Linked DNA regions of Homo sapiens. The protein of the gene in region 3 interacts with the protein of the main gene of each other region in a pairwise test. Each region holds a gene or a part of one and is shown on either strand. Other genes may lie near its edges.

What was found.
Region 1: the proteins of RSPH1 (region 3) and KDM4A interact in a two-hybrid assay, tested with the Homo sapiens proteins (one large-scale study listed by BioGRID and IntAct).
Region 2: the proteins of RSPH1 (region 3) and DNER interact in a two-hybrid assay, tested with the Homo sapiens proteins (one large-scale study listed by BioGRID and IntAct).
Region 4: the proteins of RSPH1 (region 3) and ZNF251 interact in a two-hybrid assay, tested with the Homo sapiens proteins (one large-scale study listed by BioGRID and IntAct).
Region 5: the proteins of RSPH1 (region 3) and SEZ6L interact in a two-hybrid assay, tested with the Homo sapiens proteins (one large-scale study listed by BioGRID and IntAct).
Region 6: the proteins of RSPH1 (region 3) and LGI3 interact in a two-hybrid assay, tested with the Homo sapiens proteins (one large-scale study listed by BioGRID and IntAct).
Region 7: the proteins of RSPH1 (region 3) and WDR17 interact in a two-hybrid assay, tested with the Homo sapiens proteins (one large-scale study listed by BioGRID and IntAct).

Annotation. Positions count from the first base shown.
Region 1 is NC_000001.11:43,653,149-43,656,648, reverse strand, and holds part of KDM4A (lysine-specific demethylase 4A), read right to left. Parts: 5' UTR 3,474-3,500; coding exon 3,336-3,473; intron 1,059-3,335; coding exon 883-1,058; intron 1-882. UniProt on the Homo sapiens protein: Histone demethylase that specifically demethylates 'Lys-9' and 'Lys-36' residues of histone H3, thereby playing a central role in histone code. Does not demethylate histone H3 'Lys-4', H3 'Lys-27' nor H4 'Lys-20'.
Region 2 is NC_000002.12:229,585,556-229,589,055, reverse strand, and holds part of DNER (delta and Notch-like epidermal growth factor-related receptor precursor), read left to right. Parts: intron 1-567; coding exon 568-662; intron 663-3,031; coding exon 3,032-3,198; intron 3,199-3,500. UniProt on the Homo sapiens protein: Activator of the NOTCH1 pathway. May mediate neuron-glia interaction during astrocytogenesis.
Region 3 is NC_000021.9:42,482,725-42,486,224, forward strand, and holds part of RSPH1 (radial spoke head 1 homolog), read right to left. Parts: intron 3,081-3,500; coding exon 2,945-3,080; intron 1-2,944.
Region 4 is NC_000008.11:144,749,032-144,752,531, forward strand, and holds part of ZNF251 (zinc finger protein 251), read right to left. Parts: intron 3,098-3,500; coding exon of another isoform or gene 2,979-3,097; exon of another isoform or gene 2,880-2,978; intron 960-2,879; exon of another isoform or gene 873-959; intron 1-872. UniProt on the Homo sapiens protein: May be involved in transcriptional regulation.
Region 5 is NC_000022.11:26,175,962-26,179,461, reverse strand, and holds part of SEZ6L (seizure 6-like protein isoform 1 precursor), read right to left. Parts: intron 1-3,500. UniProt on the Homo sapiens protein: May contribute to specialized endoplasmic reticulum functions in neurons.
Region 6 is NC_000008.11:22,154,007-22,158,061, reverse strand, and holds the start of LGI3 (leucine-rich repeat LGI family member 3 precursor), read left to right. Parts: upstream 1-1,255; 5' UTR 1,256-1,519; coding exon 1,520-1,725; intron 1,726-2,598; coding exon 2,599-2,670; intron 2,671-3,430; coding exon 3,431-3,502; intron 3,503-3,848; coding exon 3,849-3,920; intron 3,921-4,022; coding exon 4,023-4,055.
Region 7 is NC_000004.12:176,173,841-176,177,340, reverse strand, and holds part of WDR17 (WD repeat-containing protein 17), read right to left. Parts: intron 2,725-3,500; coding exon 2,623-2,724; intron 284-2,622; coding exon 185-283; intron 1-184.

The DNA.
Region 1 (3,500 bases), on a different chromosome or scaffold from region 3:
CAGCGGAGAAGGGCCAGGAGTGGTGGCTCTTGCCTGTAATCCCAGCACTTTGGGAGGCCAAGGCAGGAGGATCACTTGAGGTCAGGAGTTCAAGACCAGCCTGGCCAATGTGGCGAAACCCTGTCTCTACTGAAAATACAAAAAATAGCCAAGCATGGTGGCGCGTGCCTGTAGTCCCAGCTACTTGGGAGGCTGAGGCAGGAGAATCACGTGAACCTGGGAGACAGAGGTTGCAGTGAGCCAAGATCACTCCACTGCACTCCAGCCTGGGCAATAAAGTGAGACACCATCTCAAAAAAAAAAAAAAAAAAAAAAAAAACCAACAGCAGAGAAGAACTGAAAACAGGCCTACACAAAGAAAGATATCTCTAAAAGAGACAGGAATGTACAGAGAAAGAAGGAGTGACAGAAAATAGCAACCAGCTTGGTGGTTTACTCACACTGTTAATGTCAAAACAGAAATGAGCTAGCAGGCTGGATGGGCAGTGAGAAATTCCAGCACAATTAAACACAGAGCATCCCGAGAGAGAGGAAGTGGAACTAAAGCACTTTTGATGAGCAGGTGGTTGATAATACCCAGCAAAAGCTCCTTGTGCACCACATCCAACTTTCTCCTTGCAACTTTAGAGTCAGAAAATGATTCTACTTCTGATGGAAAAACAATGGGATTTGTTGTTATAAGAACAGGAACAGGTTTAGACTGGGACACAGTCCTGAGAGGAGGGAATGCTTCCATAAAAAAAGCAGAAAGGGAGACAGCTAGAACAGAGCCATCCTGCTGAAGACACTGTTCATCAGGACAGCAGCAGTCCTGGAGATGCTAGGAGGATGAGACACCAGGGTCCTAGGTGCTATGTCAGGTAAGAAAGGGTTTCCACTCACTTATCGCTATTGGCTATCTTGCGGAACTCTCGAACAGTCATGGCTTTCTTCTGTATGTTGTACTGAGTAAAGAGGCCAGACTGCCCCGTCACCAGCTGTTGAATGGGGGCAGGAATGACCAAATCATCAATGTCATCATAGGATGCTCGTGGCTTCCACTCTTTTGGAGGAACAACCTGAAGGGAACACAAGAAACAAAAAGACAGATGAGAAACCTGGCAAGCCAGTCAGAGTCCAGGAAGCATGTAGTTACCAGCCAACCTAACAGTCAATTTTACTAGACAGTTACTTTGATTTACCCACATTCACCAAAACACAGTAAGTCACAGGCATGCTAACCCTGATCCACTTTTGCCACCAACCAGCTGCCTAATTGCAGCAACCTAAGGTAAGTAATACTTGTTCCCAGCTTCAGTATCTTATTTGGACACCAAGAAAGGAGATTAAAGACTTGATTCTCTCTCAATCTCCTAGCCCAGGGCTCTCTTTAAAAAAATCACAAACACAACTTTACTTGATTTGGTCAACTCTATACTTGTACAGAATTTCCTTTTTTCACACACTAGATTACAGTTTAATTACAAAGAAGCATAACATTCTTAAAAATCTAATCTTGAGGCCGGGCACAGTGGCTCATGCCGGTAATCCCAGCACTTTGGGAGGCCGAGGCAGGTGGATCACCTGAGGTCAGAGTTTGAGATCAGCTTGGCCAACATGGTGAAACCCCATCTCTACTAAAAACACAAAAATTAGCCTGGTGTGGTGGCACTCAACTATAATCCCGGCTATTTGGGGGGCTGATGCAGGAGAATCGCTTGAACCCGGAGGCAGAGGTTGCAGTGAGCCAAGATTGCGCCATTGCACTCCAGCTGGGGTAACAAGAGCGAAACTCCATCTCAAAAAAAAACAAAAAAAATCTAATCTTGAATAGTTAAGTAAGATAGATCTGCTTTATGGAATACTATACAGCTTTTTTTTTTTTAATTAGAGAGTATTGTTTTACTTTATGTAACAAGGGAGAAAACAACACACACACACACACACACACACACACACACACACACTCACAAGCATCTGCATAAGGCAACACTGAAAGGACATATAAGAAAATACGGAAAGGGAGCAAGACTCTACATTAGCTACCTTCCAATAGCATTCTGTTTTTACTCACATAATCAAATTACCCATTCCAATAGTAATAAATTAACAAGACAGTCGACATGAGAAAAAAGAAGAATGAGTTGAATCCATAATTGACCTAGAGGGAGGAATATATGTTGTTAAAAAGGAAAAAAGAAAAAAAAAAAGAAAAAAGAATGAACGAACCAACACAGGAATGTATATGGCATGATGCCATTCTCTTTTAAAAACAAAACAAATAACACTATTTTATATGTGTGTATGTTTGTATGAGCAGAGAAAAAGGTGTGGAGGGAGCTAATACCACTTAAGGAGACGGCACTGGAGAAGGTGGATGAAGATCAGCCTTTTCTTTATCTGCGTTTGAAATATTTAACTTGTAATAACCGACATTTTTTTGGTAACTTTAAATCTAATAAAGTACAACCAAAAAAAGCAATGTGCTATGAAAAACTGCACTGCAGGCCCTGCTATTCCCGCCTGCTGTTATTAACCCAGCAGTAGCCGTATCTGCAGATAAGAAAGAGGATGTGGTCGTCTCAAGTCTCTGGAGGCACCAGGGTCCAAGACTGGTCCTCAGCTTTGTAGCCAATGTTCTTGCTTTCTCTTTTCATATTGAAAATGTAACAAGCACATATGGTAGGGAATTCAAACAACATAAAATGGTGTAAAAAATTTCCTCCTGGCTTAGACTGAGGTCCCTGCCTCTCAGTTTCCTGAGGATCTCTCCAGAAATGCAGTTCTTTCAGCTTCCAGCACTCAACCTGATTGTGACAGAATATATGAAAAGCTGATTTGACTCAGGAAAAATAACGAATCCAACTCACAGGAGAAAGAAGTACAAACCAGAAACCAATTTCAAATTACAAGGACCAGAATACTCATGTTGGCTGGCCAGTGCATTCTCTCCCCTTGAAGAAAGTCCACATGGGAAGCCAAATTGCTACTAGAGTGCTGGATGAGACTGAAATGAGAGCAAGAGAAGTCAGATGGCATAAGCACTCACTGGCAGTTCAATAACACCACAGCACCCAGCTCCACCAAGAGGGCTGAGGCACAACAGCAGCCAGGCCTGGAGACACTAGCTCTTTACCTCCCCCTTTCTGAAGATTCCAAGTAGCTCTCTTCCTACCTAAAAGCAGAGATGCTTCTGATGTTAACAACGGGAATTAACTTGCAAATAGAACCGCATTCACTAAAGTCATCACCCCACCCAACTTTCAGTAAAACACAGTTCCGGCCCAAATGTAGGAAAAAAATCTTACTGCTCTGCCCTAGGTAACAAAACCATTTGAACAATCCCAGCTCCTTACCTTGGCTAGCCCTGCCCGATGAGCTCCTTGGGATTCAATGTAGGCAATGTATCTACTGAAGTTTCGGAACTCTTCCATAGTTGGATAAAAGGTCATTATCCTAGCACTGGGATTCAGAGTTTCAGACTCAGAAGCCATTTTCCCTCCTTTTTGAGGTCCCTTTAG
Region 2 (3,500 bases), on a different chromosome or scaffold from region 3:
TTGGGAAATAATTTAAAAGCGAAGGTATAGCCTACAAGGAAAAAGAAAGGCAGCGTTCAAGCTCCCCAGCCTTAGCATGTGCTCCTGGACCCATCAGCACACAGAAGAGTCATCAGACCTGATACTGCATGCACTTTGCAAGTCGAAGGCTGGCTTGCCTAGTCATTAGGCTTTTACCTGCTGTTTGTAAGTTAGTCCTTAAAGTTGGCCTCCTGGTTAGCATCAGGTTAAGCATAGTGCAGGGGTCAATGACTGCTTGTTAAATGAATGGAAAATGAGCAGGGAGTGACATCTGCTTCCTGTCCTGCAATATCCTATTGATCAGTTTTAACAATCCCAGGAATTTGTAGATTGCTCTCAGGGAAGCTGTTGCATTTCAGAACATCAAATGACAAAGATTTCATTTTCTTTTGAGTTTGTAAGGCTTCACTTCTTCATCTCCTCTCTAGCCCTACCCCCGCATCATCAAAAGGGATGAAGGAAATTCAGCATGGAATTTTGCTTTATCACATTATGTTATACTATAAACAACCCCAATCATATGTCGTTTTTTTTTTCCCTTCCCAGGTGATCCCAGATATTGCCTGTGGGAATGCCAGTTCTAACAGCTCTGCGGGTGGCCGCCTGGTATCCTTTGAAGTGCCACAGAACACCTCAGTCAAGTAAGAAAATTCTGAGTTACAAACTGTTAAGAGTGATGCTATGACCTATAAGTGGGGTTGTGTCCATCCGCGGACCTGGTGTGTAAGTGGCCTGTCAAGTGAGAATCGTGAACAGATTCCACGGGTAGATGTGGCCCCTGCCATTTGAAAACTAGAGGAAGCGATTTCAGAGGCAATTACAGTGAGGGTTTTCAGGCTGGACAAGTGGAATTGAGAAATTGGACTGGATGAGTCTGGTGTGAGGTGACAAACCGTGAGGCCTTAGATAAGATCTCAGCCAGATTCCTTGTCTCCCAAATGCTTTGCTTCCCAAATTATTGGCCTCTTAAGATTTTATTGGACCATCAGTTACATTCAGATGCATACTTTGCCCCAAATTTAAATTCTACATATTACAATTTTCTCTTTATTTTTTATAATTTTTATTTATTTATTTATTTTTACAGTTTTCTCTTTAAAAGCAAGCGTACAAAGAGAGTGTTTTGTTTAAAATTCAAGCTATTTTAAATGACAGGGTCCATTGTCACCGGTGGGGAAGAGGGAGAGGCATAGGGAAGCAGTGCTGGTTGAGACCTGATATGTGTGGTGCTTTATATGAGGCTCAAGTCAGCAGGTGCCCAGGAGCACAAAGCTGGGGGTGGGGTATGGGCCAGTATTAGGGTGCCCCAGGCCGGCTGACAACCCCCCACTGCCCATCCTTTTCAGTTGCCATTGACTACCACCCTCCCCACACTTTCCATGCAACCTAAGGGGCATTTGCTGTCCAGTCTTTGGGGATTTTTAGAAGACTGGGAACACGTGGCCTGGTTAACCAATCTGTTGCACTGGCTCCCTTTTAAGGGGCCTGCGGGCACTGTAGGTCTCTTCCATGTATCCATCGCCATTTTTGTCTACCTGGCTTTCTAAACAGTGGAGTCCCTGAACATGTTTGGAAGAGGGACTTTGTTACATTGCTCTTGCACCCTGGGTCACCACAGCCTTGAACTCACTCTGGCAGGGGAAGAGCCTGGAAGGGCTGCTTGGGAATTCCTGGGCTCAGGAGGAACGCTCCCATCCGGAGAGGCGGGAGAGGTGAAGCCTGAGGCAGCTTCGAGCTCTACCAGCAGGGGGACCCCGGTCCTAAGCGTTTCTTTCACTGCTCAGACTACAGCTGAAACCCCTGCCGTCCTGGGCTAGTTTTAGGAGCAGGATCTCTAGTTTCCTTTACTCTTAAAACATCTCTCGGCCCTTTCTTGTCTAGATCATATTATCTTACCTTGATAAACCTTTCCAAATTTTCTGGTCTTCTATCTCGTTAAATGCTTTTGTTTTTTTCCTCTCAACAAACCTGCCATTCTCTGAGACTCCCTTAAGCTGCAGAACGGGACCGAATTAGCAGAGTCTGACTCAGACGAAGTGAGATGGGAGTGCCGAATGACCTGAGGGCACTGAATTCACTTGTGGGGGTTACTAGCTCCTTACGCTTTCATTTCCTCATGAATTTAGTCACTGATCAAAGCTTTACTGAGCCCCTGCTGCACGCCAGGAGCCCTGTGCTGGGGGAGCGGATCTGTGCGGAGTCTACTGTGATCTTCTCCAGGAGCACTGGGGAGAATGGGCAGCTGTTGGGATGTTGGGAAGTGGTCAGGAGTCTCTGGGAAGAGGTAATATGTGGGCTAGGAACACATTTCCAAGGTGGAGAAGGAGACAAAGCTTGGGAGGTGAGAAAGAACTGGGTTGGGGTAGCTCGTAGTAGCTGAAGCATTGGGCTGTGAGGAGAAAAGCGCAGGAGGGCAGCTGGGGTTGGGGTTGGGGTTGATGGGCTTTCTGTGACATCCTATTCTCTGTGGGGTGGTTTTGTGTGTTTTTTTTTTTTTTTTTTTTTTTTTTTTTTTTTTTTTTTTTTACCAAAAATGAGCCAGGGGAGGCCTGAAGCATTGGGAGGTGGATTGTATGTGATTGTGTGTGTGTGTGGGTGGGTGGGTGGGGGGTGTTGGGGAAAGGTGACACACTTTTGCTTATTTTGGCAGCATAACTCAGGTGGCTGTGTTGGGTTGCAGTCCACGTTTATGACAAATTTAAGCAAAACTCTTTTTATATTGTGTGGCTATGGAAGGATTTGTCTGAAAGAGAACTCAGTGTACTCTTTTACTGTTCATCAAAGTGGTTACTCAAAGGTGAGTTACCAGTGACTCATTTTGTGGTACACTGTGAACAAGTGGGAGTGTACGCCTTTACAGTGGACGCCCGCGTATCTGTTTATGCCATCGATCTCCTGGTACCTTGGTAGATGCACATACCATCTTTGTATTTATTTTTAATTTGAAGAACTGGTTCTAAGATGAATTTTTCTGAAAGGAGCTTTCTGTTTACATCATTCCTGTTTCCAGGATTCGGCAAGATGCCACTGCCTCACTGATTTTGCTCTGGAAGGTCACGGCCACAGGATTCCAACAGTGCTCCCTCATAGATGGACGAAGTGTGACCCCCCTTCAGGCTTCAGGGGGACTGGTCCTCCTGGAGGAGATGCTCGCCTTGGGGAATAATCACTTTATTGGTGAGTTACCAAAATCTTCTACTCAACACTGCATCTGATTCAACCCAACTTTGGTTTGGTGTTGAGACAGTAGGTAGGGAATTTTGCTCAGATAATCTGAATTCTATCCATCAATGCTATTTCTTTCACTTTGGTAAGGTTTTAGAATAAAAACTGGATTCTAACATAATATTTCTTTTTTTCTTTTTTTTTTTTTTGATGATGGAGTCTCGCTCAGTCACCCAGGCTGGAGTGCACTGGCGCGATCTTGGCTCACTGCAACCTCTGCCTCCTGAGTTCAAGCGATTCTCCTGCCTTAGCCT
Region 3 (3,500 bases):
ACCATTCTTAAGTGTCAACACCCAGCAGAAAATACAAAATACAAATGTCACCACCACAATACCCACCTCAAATCACCAAATTGGGTAAAGTGTAACATGGATTAAGGAATGCTTTTGTGAACTCGTGGCTGATGGGATTGGAACTTATATGCCCTGTTTTGTTTACTTTTGGAAACTTTAACCACATTTTACTTTTTTATAAAAGTGATGTATTCATTTTCAGAAAACCTCAGTGAATCAGTATCCATAGGCAAACTAGCTACCGATGGAACTACTACTAATATTTTGATGCATTCTTTGTAACTTTGCTTCTAGTATACATGGTTAAATAAAAATCTGATCATAATTATACATACTAACTCATACTCTATTTTTACTGAGAAATATGGCATGAACTACTTCCCGTATTTACAAATATTCTTTCCTAATAACAGTTGCCACCTGGTACTTTATTTCATCTATGGATTGCAACCTATTTTACTCAGTTACTATTGTTGGTATTTGGGATACTGATTTTTTTTTTTTTTTTACAAAGAACGCTCCAGCAAACGTACTCTGAGTTAAAACTTTATGTACGCTTTTGATACCATCCTTAAATTCTCAGAATTTCTGGACAAAAGCATACATGTGCTTTGATTAGATGAGGCTCTAATCGTTTCATTCCCATAACTGCACTTAAGAGTCCCAGATCCTCAAACTCTTGATTTTAGGAGTGTAAAAATGGTCTATTTTTACATGTTTTTTTATATAAAACAACAGGGTCTCACAATTTTAATTCACTTCATTTCAGTTGTTAGTAAGCCTGCATTTTTTTCAAGATTTTTAGCCATTTAAATCACATTGATTGATAAAACACTTTATATATTAAATGTTGCAAATATTCTCTCCCCATTTAACAGTCATCTCTTAGATTTTCTTTACAGCATTTTCTAATCTATAAGAAGTTATTTTTATAAAGCTAAACCTATTGGTTTTTCCTTTCTATTTCTGTTTAGAAAGTTCTCTTTCCTCATTTCAAGGTTAATATTCATCTACATTTTTTTTCTATATTTCCTAGGGTACATTTAAATCTTTACTTCTTCTAGAAAGTATCTTCATCTGTGTGAAGGCAAAACTATTATTTTCCTCCCAAATAATTGTCAAGTGTTCCTAGCACTATGTCTTGACTCCTCCCATCATCCCTTTGTTAATTTGACACGCTTATTGTGTGTGAAATTATTTTATATACTGGGAACTGTCTCTGGACTTCCTAATTTGCTTCATTGGTGTGTGTGTGTGTGTGTATCCTGGTATCACACTGTTTTAATTATTGAAGTTTTGTGGTATTGATAACTTGTCCACAAGGACATGTACAGGGAATTTTCTGAGGAAGAAACACAAACCAGCAATAAACATGTGACAAGATGTTTGACCTCACTAGTAATCAGGGAAGTACACATTAAAACAATGAGATGACATTTTTTACCCATAAGATTGGAAAAGAACAAAAACAACATTAAAGACTGAGAATATCCAACATCGATGAGAATATATGATAAACAGACTCATATTCTATTGGCAAGAGTATAAACTGACACCACTTTTTAGGAAAATGGGCACTACCGATTGTGATTCTAAATGCCAATCCTCAAAGGTTTCACAATTCCATTATCTAACCTACACAATAGTCCCAAATGTGCAAAATGACAAATATGTATCTTTATGTATATTTTTGTATCCTGACACAGTATGATCCTAATTATGTAATTAAAACCCCCAAACAATAATTCTGTGTCAGATGACTGTATTAGAATGTGCTTACATGACACACAGAAATAGTGTGGAAGGATTGGGCCCAGGGTGGTGGGGCAGGATCCTAGTGTTTAAATGCTTTACAATTGGAATGTACTTGTGTATTATTTGTATAATTTAAAGTTTTTTACTAACTAGCAAAACAAAGCCTCCATTTTTACCCCGATTTTTCAGACTGGTTTAGGCTGGACAAGCTGATTGATTCTTCCAGATTCATTTTCATCAAATTCTCTTCCTCTGCAACCACCTTCCCATCTCCTCCAAAAAGACCCACAGAAAGTTTGCTGGGAATTATATAAACAATGTATGGGTTTGAGGGGAATGTGCTGTTTTGATGAAGACTAAAAGTAAAATCTGTGGTTAGGGCATGAATTATACGTAAATGAAAACTGGGTTCTAAGAGAGTCTGAAGAGACTTCGTTGTATCAGCTAAACATTCCCTCTGTCAACTTCTAACACCATCAATTTGCTCCGCAAATTCTCTCTTCAGGGAAAGTTTCTGCTCAACCCCTGATCAAAGCTACCACGATGGCCTGAGTATTAGCTTCTGAATTATTCAAGGTTTCTCTGTACAATAAGGGCAAGAGGAACCACCGAGTCTTCCAAACAGAAACGGCCCACCATGGGTGCTAGAAGCTGGCAAGCCTCCAGACGCAGGGCCAGGCCCTTGGCAGCCTTAATTCCCACCACAACTAGGAGCACGCAGGCTGGCCTGTAGCATGAGGAGGGAGCTGGGGGTCTTCCTCCCCAGGGATGTCGCACCTCCCCTTCCAGGGAAACAAAACCCAAACACCTCTATGCTCAATTGCAGGAAATAGATATTTGGTATCTGATTTACCCATGAGAAGGAATACACACAAGAGGTTCAGATGCCCTCTCGTGTTATATAACAATGCAACAGGTCCCCGCTGAAAGACAGTGGGAATTTGTACTGAGATCCAGAGAAACGGGCCAATCCCTCCCTTCCCCCAATTCTGTGCTCTGTGGGTACCAGAGGCTCAGAGAATGGCACAGCTGTCCTGTTCTCCACATTTGAATAGGCCGGACTCAGTTTTCTCTGAGTTTTTGGTATTCTCTGGTCACACATTTGCACAGGCTGCCAGAGGGGGTTATTTTGTACTTCATTGGCAAATGTCACTTCCCATGGACTTACATTTTTGTTCAAGAACTTGCCCTGGTACCTGTGGTTCAGGTGAATGAGCTCGGCCGTGCCCTCCTGCTGTCCGTTCACCCAGGTGCCAACATACTTACTGCCCGTCTCCGCGTATAAATAGGTGCCTTGCCCATGCCTGGTTAAGACAAGGGGAACATGGTATTTCGTTCCAGCACAGTGAAAAATCTCCCAGGTTTAAAACACAGACATTGACATTGAGGGAGGCCCAGGCTGTTGCAGGCTCACAAGCGATGTAGCTTCTATATCTGTGTCCAGTCAGAAGGTGCCCCTTGCTCAGTGTGCCCCAAGCACAGGACATTGCCAGAGGCACAGAGGACAGGCCAGCTGGACAGAGGCAAGCCTCCTGTGTGTCAGCTGCTTTCCCCAGGGAAGAGGCAGAGCTAGTGGGAGCTGTGGCTCAGGTCCCCCAGTGGCTCTTCTGTGCCCTCCACTCCCTGGGACTCTTGGGTGAAAGACTCACGTGCTCTGCCCCAACTGAGGTGCAGATGTCAGATACTTGAGTCTACACTTGCACAGAAAGGCATCCTTGCCTCAA
Region 4 (3,500 bases), on a different chromosome or scaffold from region 3:
ACATGCACCTGTAGTCCCAGCTGCCCGGGATGCTGATGTGGGAGGATCGCTTGAGCCCAGGGGGTCAAGGCTGCCATGAGTCATGATCAAGCTACTGCACTCTAGTCTGAGCAATAGAGTGAGACCCCATCTCTAAAAATATAAATAAATAACTTTTTAAAAAGGGGATTATTGGCTGGGTACAGTGGCTCATTCCTGTAATCCCAGCACTTTGGGAGGCCAAGGTGGGTGGATGTCTTGAGACCAGGAGGTCAAGACCAGCCTGGACAATATGGTGAAACCCTGTCTGTACAAAACACAAAAATCAGCCAGGTGTGGTAGTACATGCCTGTAGTCCCAGCTACTTGGGAGGCTGTGGTGGGAGGATCACTCGAGCCTGGGAGGTCAAAGCTTTCAATAGACTGGGACTGTGCCACTGCACTCCACCCTGGGGGACAGAGTGAGACTGTCTCAAAAAAATAAAAAAAAAATTTAAAAAGGTGATTACTGATGTTGCTGAATTAACATCTACCACATTTGTTACCATTTTCTACTTTTTGCCCTTGTTCTTCATTCCTATTTCTGTTTTCCATACTCTTCTACCTTTTGTGGGTTTACCTGAGCATTCTATTATATGTAATTCCATTTTGTATCCTTTTTTAGCATATCAACTATACTTCTTTTTTAACTTTTTAAATTGGTTTGCAATCTGCATTTACAGCTAATACAAGTCCACTTTCAAATAACAATCTCTTGGAGGCCGTGTACCATCCACTAACGAGCCTGTCAAAGGCACTGTTCCTTTCGGTTATGGTGTTTTTGGTCTCTAGTATTTAAAAAATTCTTAAAATTTCTTTTTCTTTTCTTTTTTTTCTTTTTTTTTTTTTTTTAAGAAAGATGATCTCGCTATGCTGCCTAGGCTGGCCTTGAACTCCTGGGCTCAAGCAATCCTGCTACACTATGAGGAGTTGCAAATACAGGTATGTGCCACCACATCCAGCTTCTTAAAATTTTAATCTCTTTTGCTTACATTATCAATCTGTTTTTGCATACTGTCTACTTTTTCCCTTAAAGCCCTCAGCACGTTAATCATAGTTTTAAAAAAATACCTGGTCTGATTACTCCAACACTCCTGCCACGACTGACTCTGGTTCTAATGCTTGTTCAGTCTCTTCAAACTGCATTTTCTGCCTTTTAAGTATGCTTTGTAATTTTCTGTTGATAGGTAGACATGATACACTGGGTAAAAGGAATTGCAGTAAACAGGGCTTTCATCCTGTTTTCAGGTGTTGGGGTGGGAAAGTGTTCTATGATACTATGAGCAGGGCTCAGTCTTGCTGAGCTTGTGTCCCTGGACTATGAACTTCCCAAGTGCTTTTCAGCTTCCCCCACCTGCCATTAGGTGGGACAGAATATCCAGAAGTAGCTAGTGTTAGGTATTTCCCTTCCCCCAGGAAGGTTAAGTTCTGATAAAAACACCAGCAGGTTAGGCCCTGGTAAAATTGTTTCTCCTGAGGGCAGGTCTTGTTAAGAACAGAATGGTATATTCCAAAGTGGTCCCTTTTCACTTCCTCCTGCCAGAAGCACAAGGAGATTTTTCTCTGATATTCACTGTCAGTACCTAATAGAGCTCCTGGAGGTAAAGCTCACAAAAGTATGGGGTCCTCCCATGACCGGGTCCCCCTGGAGTTTTTTTTCAGAGTTGTCCACACTGAGCCTCTAGCAATTTGCCAGTTACATTTTAGGCTTACCCATCTGGCCACCGGTTCCCTGGGAGATTATTGCTCACAAGATGTGGTTGTGATTCTTTGTATCTGCCTGTTTATCTCTCCAGAGTTTTTTTTTTTTCTTTTTTTTTTTTTAGAGTCTCGCTCTGTCACTCAGGCTGGAGTGCAGTAGTGCAATCTTGGCTCACTGCAACCTTTACCTCCTGAGTTTCAGCGATTCTCCTGCCTCAGCCTCCCGAGTAGCTGGGATTACAGGAACCCACCACCACGCCCAGCTAATTTTGTGTTTTTAATAGAGACAGGGTTTCACCATGTTGGCCAGGCTGGTCTTGAACTCCTGGCCTCAACTGATCCACCTGCCTCGGCCTCCCAAAGTGCTGGGATTACAGGTGTGAGCCACCGCACCCGGCCATACCTCTCCAATTTTGAGAGCAGTGATTTGTCCTCTGACCTCACACCTCTCTGATGGAGCTAAGATTTGTTGATTTTTCAGTTTGTTCAGCTTTTTACTTGTTAGGACACAGTGATGACTTCTAAAGTCCTTACATGTCAGAAACAGCTAAAATACTATTTATTTGGCCTTTTTCCTTTTCCTTTTTTATAAACTATATAACTGTTTAAAACTGAAATTATCACATTGTCTTTCTGAGTTTAAAATGTTATGTAGATGTATTACACATAACAACTATAACAAAAAGGATGGGAGGGATGGTTACAAGATTTCTGGATTTATGTGAAGTAGTACACAAATGAACTGTAAGTAAACTGTGGAAACTTATGTATACTGTAAACCTTAGGAAAATCACTGTAAAAAATAATGCAAAAAGATTATGTAAAAAGCAAATAATAAAATTTAAATGGAGTTATAAAAAGTATTCAAATAACCCAAATAAAGGCCGGAAAGAGGAATTTAAAAAACAGAAGAGGTAAATGTAAGTAAAAAATAAAATATTATGCACAAGTGCATTCCTGAACCATATAAACAATTACATTAAACATTAACAGACTAAACACTACAATTAAAAGACAAAGATTGTTAGGATGAAGAAACAAGACCCAATTGTATGATATCTGCAAGAGATTCACTTTAAGTGTAAAGACAGGTTGAAATTAAATGGATGAAAGAAGATATACTATGCTAACAGTAAGTATAAGAAGGATGGAATTGCTACATTAATATTAGATAAAATATATTTCAAAACAAAATGTATTACCAGAGACAAACAGGAATTCTCTTATCTCTCATAATGATAGTCATAAGTGAAGTAAGTCTTATAATACAGCTTCAAGATACATGAAGCCAACACTACAAAAATTAAAGTGAAGAAAAGACAATTCCACAATCATACTTCTGTATTTTAACACCCCTCTCTCAGCAACTGAAAGAATAACTAGACCAAAAAAAAAAAAAAAAAAAAAATCAGCAAGGATACAGAAGACCTGAACAATACCATCAACCACCTTGACTTAACTGATATTTATCTAACCCCCAAATGGCAGAATACACATTCTTTTTCAGTGCACGTGGTATTTGTACTGGGAGAGACCACATTTGGGGTCATAAAACAAGAAGCAACAAATATGAAAGGAATGAAATAATACAGAGTATGTTCTCTGACCACAGTGGAATTAAATGACAATAACAATAAGATAACTAGGAAAACACCAACTATCTGGAAATTAATGCATGTCCAAATAATCATTGGGTCAAAGAAGAAGTCACAAGAAAAACTAGATAACATTTTGAACTAAATGTTAATGAAAATACAACATATTAAAATTTTGTGAGATGCA
Region 5 (3,500 bases), on a different chromosome or scaffold from region 3:
CTTCTTGTTTCAACATTTCTACCTCTCATGGTGAAAGGGGTAAGGTGTGTCTCTCCATTTGTTGTTTTTTAAATACAAGGTCTTGCTCTGTCACTCAGGCTAGAGTGCAGTGGTGCAGTCATAGCTCACTGCAGCCTTGGACTCCTGGGCTGCAGTGGATCCCCCCATCTCAGCCTCTTGAGTAGCTGGGACTACAGGCATATGCCACCACACCTGGCTAATTTTTAGAATTTTTTGTACAGATGGGGTTTTGCCATGTTGCCCAGGCTGGTCTAGAGCTCCTGGCCTCAAGTGATCCTCCTGCCTCAGCCTCCCAACTGCTGGGATTACAGGCACGAGTCTCCACACCTGGCCTCAAGCCTCTTTTTTTAAGAGCACCTATTGCATTCATGGGACCTCTACTTTCATGACCTAATCAATTCCCCAAAGCCCCACTGCTAATACCATCAGCAGAGGGGTTGGATTTCAACCTATACATTGGTGTCGGGGGAGGGGACATAAATATTCCAACCATAGCACTATACCACAAAAATCACATTAGAATATACTATTTCCTCTCTTGGAAGCCATCGCTGACCTGAGAATCAGCTCGGTCCATCAGTAACAACAGCAACTCATAATTCCCCTCTTCATCCTCATCACTACCACCCACTCCCATCATCTCAGAGTTAAGTGACTTGTTCAAGATCACAGCATTAGGTTTGAACCCATATCTCTTGGACTCCAGGGTCTGTGTCTTTTTTATTATGGTGTACGGCTTTGAAGAGCCCATTCCATTTTGGCAATGTGAACTCACCAATTTATGACACTAAGCTAAACTGGGAATAGGTGAGACCAGACAAGGAAACTGACACCCAGAGGCTTATACCCACTAAGACTTGTCCTGAGCTCCAGACCCCAGGTGCTATACTGTATCCACCTACCTTGTTCTAATCTCCAGCCCCAAAACATCACCAGTCCCTACTACTTGCTCCGGGCTGGCACCAACTACATTAGCTATGCCTCACTCAATCCTTCCCTGCTCTCCACATCCCAGATCCCCAGTGGGTTTCTCAATCAGCCACTATCCATGACCCATGGTGAGAGTGAGGAAGCCTAGGAGGGATACCTAGCCTGGGCCTTGGGTCTCCTTGAGCCTCTTCATTTAACTCTTGCTTGCTTGACTCAAGCCAGATGCTTGGATGGCACCATTCCCCGGTGCAAGCTTATCTGCTGGTGCCTTGAAGATTCAAGTGCCAAGTCAGCAGAGGAGGGAGCTATGGCTTGATTTCCACTTCTACCAAAGCCTCTTTCATGCAGTCAGTCTTCCATGGCCACATAATGTAAATGTCCCATGTGGGTAATAGACGCCAGTGGTTTACTGAAAACAGATACCCTTAAAACTTCCATTGCCACACTCCTTGGGTCTCAGGACATAAACTTGAGAGGGATAGGGATTCCATTTTTCTTGAAAGTAGGTGGAAGTCACTTTAGCATGGGAGTCAGAAGACATGAGTGAGGGGTTCAAGTCCTGGCTCTGCCACTCACAGTTGGGACTTTGAGTAAGCCCTTTCTTGTCTCTGGGTCTCTTTCCTCAATAAAATGAAAATATCAGGGAGAGGATTGAGGCAGATAAGAATCCCAAATAACTGCTAGAATCTGATTAATATTACAGACACCAAGGAGGCCTACTCTAACTATACAACCTCTCTCCCATATCATATTATCCCTGAGAAGTGGGCAGATCATAGACCCTCACTCCTATGCAAGGCCCGGTGCCAGCTCAAGGTGACAAAGTGGCTTGACTAAGGATACACATCTAATAAGAAGCAACAGACTGAAACCCAGGCTGCTCTGACTCTAGAGCCTGGGTTTTTATTCACTTTGCTATACTGTCCCAGTTTTCAGCTGGGCATTTGCTGTTTTTGCAGCTGCCAGAGACCTAAGAGAAGGCAGATTCAACAATAAGCAGTAGGATGTCCAGAAGGTTTCTGCTTTGAAATGAGCTTAGGCACAGGGCAAACAATTGCATCCAATATTTCCTTTGGAAAGAAAGATGGCTTTAGTGAGGACCCGATGAATGGCCTATCTTGTGGTTTTGTGTTTGCACAAAGGTTTTTTCTTTTCTCTTTACAAAGTGTATTTCTCTCCTCCCACTTTTTAATTTTTCTTTCTCTTCCTCCTTTTTTGTAGAGTTACTTAGTGATTCCACATCTATTATCTCATTGGTTTTCCTCTACAGCAATCCTATGAGGTTGGACACTATTATTATTCCCATTTTTCAGATAAAAAATCAAGGTTTATACAGGCTGCCTAAGACCACACAGGATAGGAGAGTCAGGAATTAAATTCAGATGTCAGGACTCTAACTTCACCTCCCCAAAACTAAGATTAAGAGGAAAAGTCATTTAACATAATGGGTTGAGAATTTATACCTGATTAGATACAGGCTAAGGGGCATATGAATGAGTAAGATTCAGTTGAGGTTTTCTAAGAGTTCATTGTTTAGGGGGAGGGAGTTATGTAAATTGGCAACTCAGGCATTATCAGTGTATGAATTACCCATAGTAGAGGGATAAAATGTGATAAGGGGTCAAGAGGATCATTCATAATTGGCATAGACAGGAGAGAAGCAAGAGAAGACTTCACAGAAAAGGAGAATTAGGACTGGGTTCTGAAGGATGAATAGAAGTTTACCAGGTTAATAGTAGAGCAATAATGGCAAATTTTTATTGAGTGCTTGCAATGAGCTATGAATATGCACATATATTGACGAGTCTTAACAATCTTGTAATGTAAATCTAATCCTCTCATTTTATATATCAGGCCAAAACAGGCCTAGAGAACTAAAGTAAATAGCTCAAGATCATACTGTTAAAATCAGCCAGTTGGGAACTTGATTTAGTCCTCTCTACACAACCAGCCATGCGCTCCTCTAGGATGACAGTCCAGGCTGCAGGAATAGCATGAGTAAGATGAGAATAAGGCTCACGCACAAGCCATCAAAGTAGGTATGAAAGAGGCTGGGATAAACTGTTTTCTGTCTCAGAAAGCTGACTTGGGACACCTGGCATTTGCCACTGGATGAGAAAGCATCTCTCCTCTTGGAGTCCTGTCAAACCACCTTGATCTCCAGGCTTGCATCAGCTCTCCATTTCCATTTTGCTCTGTGCTATGTGATACCCACATCTTCATGCCCCAGTATTTAGAACAAGCGTGGGCTTTGGAATCAAAAGTTCTGGGGTTGAATCCTGACTCCACCGCTCATTGTCCATGAGACCCTGAGCAAGTGCTTGTACCGTTCTGACCCAGTTGCCTTATCTGTAAAATCTAGTTTATCATACCACCTGATAGGAACACATGAGGATCAAATACGTGAATACAGGAAAAGCACAAAGACAGCCCCCTGGCACAGAGTAGGTCCACAATCAATGGCAAACAGCAGTGTTATATTTGCTATAATGCTGGCTATAACCAGCCCAGGAAGAAACACATGGGGGTGTTTGAGGTCTTCAGCCTTC
Region 6 (4,055 bases), on a different chromosome or scaffold from region 3:
TCCTCCGCCACAGGGGAGCTAACGTGGTAGAGAGCAGCAGTCTTCAAGCTTTTTGTTTTCAGGACCCCTTAACACTCTCAAAAAGTATTGAGGACCCCCAAGAGCTTTTGTTTATGTGGGATATGTCTGTTGATATTTACTGAGAAATTACATTTTTATTTACATGTGAATTTAAAATATCAGTAATAAACCCAATATAGGTTATGACATAAATCACATTTTTAATGGAAAAACGATTTTACAAAGCAAAATTATTTTACAAAGCAAAATAAAATTAGAGAGAAAGTGTCATTTCTTTACAGTTTTGGAAATCTTTTAAATTTGGAGCTTCATAGAAGTGAAAAGGGCAAATCATGTCTTAACAATATTAGGAAAATTGTTTTTACCTCAGAGACTTCCTGAAAGGTTCTCAAGGACCCCCGGGCTCCCAGGGCTACACTTGGAAGAGCCGTGCATGGAAGGACGACCGTGAACCTTGAAGCTGGGCAGAGTGGGCGGAAATCCCTGCTGATACCTTTTTCTTCTGGTGCGACAGGCCTCACTTTTCTTGTCTGTAAAAGGGAATTACTATCACCTGCCTCAAACGATTGAGAGGATTAAGTAGGGAAAGTACAGAGCACTTGCGATAGCAAGCTTAGGGGGCCTCAGTTTCCTCATTTGTTAGACAAAGGGCTGGACTGAAAAATATCCAAAGCGCTTCCCAGCTTTAACAGGCTGTGGTTGAGCGTGAGAAATGTTCCAGAATTCCACACAGTCCCACTCCAGCTCCAGAGGCTGCGTTTCCCTTTTCAGCTCATGCTGACACAAAGGTACATTCTGTTCAGCGGCGCGTGGAAAAACATGTGAATCCGGTTAGAAGCGCACTTCAGACTCCTCCAGGACGCCCTTGTGCTTCTAATCTTGCATGCTAACTTAGATATGCGTCTGTCACTCACGACATGCCCATGATGCTGCCTAGGGGATGTGTCCCCCCATGCAAAGAAACCCAGGTAGACAGAAGCACAGGGATCCCTAACGCCGAAGCGCCTCCACAAGGCAGTGAGTGCATGTGCCCGTGCAGAGACAGGTGAGCACCGGCGCGCACAGTCGTGCCCAGCAGAGGCACAAGCACAAGCTCACACGCATGCACTCACGCGCAGCCCCACACGCGGATGGCCCCAGAGACCGCCCGGTAGAGCACACAGCGGCCACGCCTCCCCTTCCGTGACTCCCAGGCCCCGCGCCGCCCCGCGCGCGCCCCCGCCGCCCGCGCCGCAGTCCGCAGCCACCCGGCGCGGTCAGCCCCGGCTGCGGCTCCAGCTCCGCGCTCCGCTCTTCTCTCCCGAGCCGGATCGCGGGAGCGAGCAGGGGAGGGGACCGCAGCCGGCGCCCGAGGGCAGGAGGAGTCCGCAGGCGGGCCCCTGGCTGCGGTAGCAGCTGCCGGTGGCAGGGAGGTGCCAGCCCGCGCGGGGTGGCCCAGCCGCGGGAGCGGTGGGGCGGGGGCCGCGGCCGCCGGCCCCAGGGAGAGATCGCGGGCAGCATGGCGGGGCTGCGGGCCAGGGGGGGCCCGGGGCCGGGGCTGCTGGCGCTCTCCGCGCTCGGCTTCTGCCTCATGCTGCAAGTCAGCGCTAAGAGGCCCCCCAAGACGCCCCCCTGCCCGCCCAGCTGCTCTTGCACCAGGGACACCGCCTTCTGCGTGGACTCAAAGGCGGTGCCCAGGAACCTGCCCTCGGAGGTCATCTCCCTGTGAGTGTCCAGCCCTGGCCTTGGGGGTTGGGGAGGGAGAGGAGGCCGAGGACAGCTCTGGGAGAGGACAGGAGAACCCCCGCTCCCCCTCTTCAGAGTGCGGGGACCAGGGGGACTGCAGGGGTCCTCAGGGCTGGAGATTCCAGGCACCAGTCGGGCAGGGAGTTCTGCAGTTTTGCAGGCTCAGCGGCCATGGGTGGGGAAAGCAGGAGTTCACCACCAAGAATGAATCATCATCACCACGAGCGACAGTGAGACCTACTGTGTGCTGTGCTCCAGACTTGGGGGGGTTGCTTACACGAGCATGTGGGCCCCTGCCTGTGATGTCACACCAAGGGCAGGAGAGTGGCGGCCAGAGCAGGATGAGAATGAGCTATGCCCTCCCAGCACCCTGGCATGGGGCACATGCCCGCCACTGACCAGCCACTTGGCACTCAGCTCGGCCAGCCTGTCACTCACAACAGCCAGCCTCAGGGGCTCCCCCTTGTCTGTGGGACCAGAGAGGTTGTGAGGTCCTTGGGGACCAGGATGCCAGCCCCCACCCCCATGCCCCATCTCTCAACAGCACCCAGCCCATTGTGGGTGTTTGGATGATGATGACAACGGTGTGGGTGATGGAACCTTTTCTTGCCTGAGAGGGAAGCTGAGCCTGGGGCCATGGGTGCCCCAAGAGGCAATAGGGGAGGACCCTGGTGAAGGCAGGCAGTGAATTTGGGAGGAGAAGGGAAAGACACACAGATGGGGGCTAAATTAGGTGAAATGGGGCATTTCCAGGGCAAGTGAGTACAAAAGCTACTGCCCTCCGTGTTCACCTCTCCCTGCCTCAGCACAGCCCTTGCAGACCCCACAGTACTGACTCGGGTGTCCCCGCAGGACCCTGGTGAATGCCGCCTTCTCAGAGATCCAGGATGGAGCGTTCTCCCACCTCCCGCTGCTGCAGTTCTTGTATGGATAGGGCCTTGTGGAAGGGTTGGGGGAACTATGGGGTGGTAGCAGGGGACAAATCCTGGGCTGGGGAGAGGGAGAGTGGACAGAGGCAGCCTCTGCAGACGAAGATGCAGGTGTCCCTTGCTTTTGTTCTGATAGGATGTACCCAAAAGACGGGGCAGCCTTGAGTCAGGGGAGTCGGGGCAGCAGGAGGACAGCTAGGGATGGCACAGAGAAGCCAAGCAAGTGGGATGCGGGGATGGGCTTGGCTGCTCTGGAAACCCCAGAGAATTGGGTGCGATAGCCTGGGCTAGTGCCCAAGGTGGGCACTGTGGGGCCATCTTAGAGACAGGTGATCCCAGGAATCAGAGTTCCCAGAAAGAGCTGGGGGCTGAAAGAAAGGGATGGCAGGAGTGTCTCCAACCCTACAAGATGCCGTCCATGAGGGACAGTTGTCCATGAGGGGCTGGAATGGGACAGAATGAGGGTGGGGGAGAGGGAGAGGAGATGCCACCCGGGAGGACCAGGAGCTGGCTTGACAAGAGAGCTCTGCCTTGGCCCATGTTTAGGATCCAACAGGGACCCTGGGAGCTTCTGGGGCCAGAACAGGCTCCTGCCTGGCCTTGTTGCCCAGGTGGCCCAGGGATTCCCCATGGGGTCCCCAGGGGTAGCAGCAGGGCAGTCATGTCTTGGGGAAGCCCAGGGCTGAGGCAGCGGGCTGGGGGCTGGGGCAGCAGGCACACCCTTGGAAGCTCTAATTCCACCTTTGTCTCTGCAGGTTACTCAACTCCAACAAGTTTACACTGATTGGAGACAACGCCTTCACAGGACTGTCGCACCTGCAGTATCTGTGTGTGGGAGGGAAAGGGGCAATGGGAAAGCAGAAGGGAGGGGGACCCCAGGCCTGGGAGGCCGAGGGACTGGGTAGGGAGTGGATGAGAATGCCGCAGGAAGGGAAGGTGATGGGAGGCGAGAGCCCTTGCATCCCGTGATGGCAGGACCTGAGCAGAAGGTCGTTTCATTCATTTTGCCTCTACCCTACCTGATGCTCTATCTCTATGGCTTGGTGATGCCAGACTCCATTTGGAAACCTGTCTCGGGGACACGGGCTGAAATCTAGGCTGGGGCGTAGGGCGAGTGCTGCTGGGGGTCTGGCATCCTGTGTGAGCACTGAGGCAAGTTCCCGCTTTCCCCAGCTTCATTGAGAACAATGACATCTGGGCACTATCCAAGTTCACCTTCCGAGGACTCAAGTCCTTGACTCACCTGTGAGTACGTCACACATACACACACTGCACCAAAGCCCCACCTCTCCTGTGGCCTTTGGCCTTGCTCATGATCTTCAGATGACCTGGCGGTCTCTTTTGCAGCTCGCTGGCCAACAATAACCTGCAGACACTGCC
Region 7 (3,500 bases), on a different chromosome or scaffold from region 3:
TTATAGTAAAACAAAGGACTACATGGCAGAAAAGTACGGTATTGTAAATTATTACTGCATATATGCCAAACAAATCAAGATTCATTATTCTGCTAAAATTAATGAGACCACACATACTTCCAACAAGTTTGTCTATAACATCAAATACCTTCTGCATTCCAATTTTTATATCATATTTGCTCACCTGTTGGTGGACTGTGTGCAAGCTCTCCATGCATCCAATTCCTCAGAAAGATATTCAATTTTTAAAGGTACTGACACCTCCCGACGTTTTAATAGCTGACTGAACGTGTGAAAAGGAAATTAACATCTGATACCAAAAACTAAGATATCAGAAAAAGCAAACAAACTTTAAATGTGATTTTAGATTTATATATTTCTGTATACAGACATTATACGTTATATATAATATACATATAGAATATTTTCTAGTATATGCGTATATATGCTCACCTGTATATTTAGCACAGTCCCTGGCAAGTCAAAGTTATTCAATAAACATTGGGTGGATGAGTAAATGAGTGAGTGGATAAATAAATGAACTGCATAATGTATGAAGAATGGTTGGACAAGTTAAGTGATGTTAAATAATAGCCACAGTGAGAGAGAACACTTAACCATGACCCTGATCATTTAATCTTGAATGACAGAAAGAGAACACGGGAGAAGGAGATTTGAGAAGAAAGATGATTTGAATTCTGAGCATACTGACTTTAGGCTGGAGTTTAGCAAGCTGCTGAATATACACATAGGAGTTTGAAGAGTACGCTATGCCTGAATATAAGACACTGAGTTACCTCCATAGAGGTGATAGGTGAAGCTGAAAAGTGGTGAGGTTTCTGAAGGACACCGTATAGAAAGGAGACGGGAGGGAGTGGAGCCGTGGGAGGAGAGTGGGATGGAGAGGAGGAAAAAGGGAAGCAGAGGACGAGAGAATGAAACTTTGGGGACTCACATATTTAGTGGGTCAAGAAAATAATTATAAGCAGCAAGACAACAAAGATGGAACTGTCAGAGACGATACATTCTTTAATATTAGGAAATTATCAATTTCTCTTTCTAAGCTAACACATTCCCTAAACTTAGTCACATTCTCTCAAGTCTCTCCTGCCCTTGCAAATAAAAACCGTTCTTTTTCTTTTTGATATTAATTTAATGCTTAATTAAGAATTTTTCTCTTTACTTTTATCATTATATATAGCTGAACATATTAAACATTATTTTACATCTATGTGATATATCCTACTGCTCCTATAATATCTTTTAATACTGTTAAATGTTGCTTTCCAATTTTGGTTATGCTACCTATGTAGAAAGAGATTTTTCCCTGAGCATGCTGATAGTATTAATTCCATATTATTCCTTATTTGTACTAGGTGACAGCTAGTGCTTCACCTACGCAATAGGGAGAAGTTAGGAATGAGAAAACCTGTTTCTCTTAGAATCCTCTGCCACATATGAACTCAGAAAAACTGCTTAACCGGCCGGGCATGGTGGCTCACGCCTGTAATCCCAGCACTTTGGGAGGCCGAGGCAGGCAGATCACGAGGTCAGGAGATCGAGACCATCCTGGCTAACATGGTGAAACCCCGTCTCTACTAGAAAAATACAAAAAATTAGCCGGGCGTGGTGGCGGGCACCTGTAGTCCCAGCTACTCGGGAGGCTGAGGCAGGAGAATGGTGTGAACTTGGGAGGCGGAGGTTGCAGTGGGCTGAGATTGTGCCACTGCACTCCAGCCTGGGAGACAGAGAGAGACTCCATCTCAAAAACAAACAAACAAACAAACAAACAAACAAACAAATAAAAGACTGCTTAACCACGGACCCTCTGCATTTGTTAAAATGGTTACCTACTAAGCCATTTAGCTAACTACTAGACTTGGAAGAAGGTTTTTATGGAAGGCACCGTGAATTTTATTTTATAGTATAAGAAGTTTTAAGTACAAGGGCTGAAGTTAAACAAGTTGTTATAAAATGTAGGAGTATGGCTAACAGGTTATGCCTGAATATAAAATATTAAAATAGTAACCTGCTACTTACAAACTCCCTTTACTCTGCCTTTTCTGCTGTAGAGATTGAAAAGCTAAAATATTCAGTTTCCTATTTTCTTTTAGTGAGATGTGGGCATAAAACCCTAAGGAGGACTTTCCTTCCTGAATAAAATGGTCTTGCCAGGAGAAAGTCCTTTGTGGTCTCTTTCACTCTTACCTCTTTCCTACTCAGAATGTAGTCGTAATTCATGGAGGGCTAGCATCTATCTTCTAACCATGGGATACTCAAGCAAGAGGAAATAATCCAAAAAATGTCATAGTGGAAAGAAGGGAGTATCAGGTCCTTGAAGAAATCACTGCACGGCAGTAAAAGCCTTAGAAAGCCTGTCTCAAGTGTCTTGACATGAAAGATCAATAAATCCTAGGAGTTTAAGCTAGTATTCAAATTATTATTATTTACAGCCCAATGCATCCCTAATTTATGTGCTGCTTTATTATAAAGCACACGCTGAGTAAATAGATGGATACTTGTAATAATATATTTGATACTTTGTATAATCCACTTAGAGACTATCCATCTTAGCAAGAGAAATTGCTCTAATGTCATGATGGAGGAAAAAACCTTTTTTACCTTGTGTACTCATAAAGTGCTGGAACAATGCTTTGGTACTGTCTTCTGATAGCCAGTAATGCACCAATGTAACCACATAATATCAGCAACTCATTTCGAGCTCTAAAAGAGAATATATTTATTTTTATAAATTCCACAATTTGAGGCATAGAACATTACTCTGATACACAGTTCATGTACTTTATATATTCTGAAAGGTGACATTTATAGCAATATATGTTTAGAAAATTTTCTAAACTTAAGGAAAATTATTCACCAGTTCTTAATTCCTATTCAGATATTTATGCTATACCATCAATTAGACTATAAAATAAGCATATTTAAATAGTATTTCACTGTTGCCTGCTTGTTGTTCTGTATTTCCTGGCTGTTTCTTCATGTAATTTATCCCTAAATAGCTCCTTTGGTCAGGTGGAGGGAGTCCTGGAATACCGTGTAGACTCACAGTAAAGAACGTCTTCTGCATTCTTGCTGAGGGAGTTAGCCAGTCTCCCAGGCTGCTGCATCATTTTTTCCATTTAGGCTTTAAAACAAAAAGAGCCCAAAGCCTCTCTTGTAAATTATACAAGAGTCTCTGAGGGCTTTAGTTATATAGATAATAATGTCTTTTAATAGTACCTGAATCCAGGGATGATGTCTATTTTGTACTTTCCAGCAATTTTACTTCTTTCCCACAAGCTCAGTATGGTGCTTTGCATACAATGGATAATTAACAAATATGACCATGAGTTTCTTAAGGACTTGAGATCCAAAAGCTTTGAACTTGCTTTCTTTAAACCAGGTGTGCATGTGTGTGTACATATATAAACATACACATACTAGATATTATTAAGTGGGACCACTAATATTTAATACTCTGTTTCAAGTTGACCTCTACA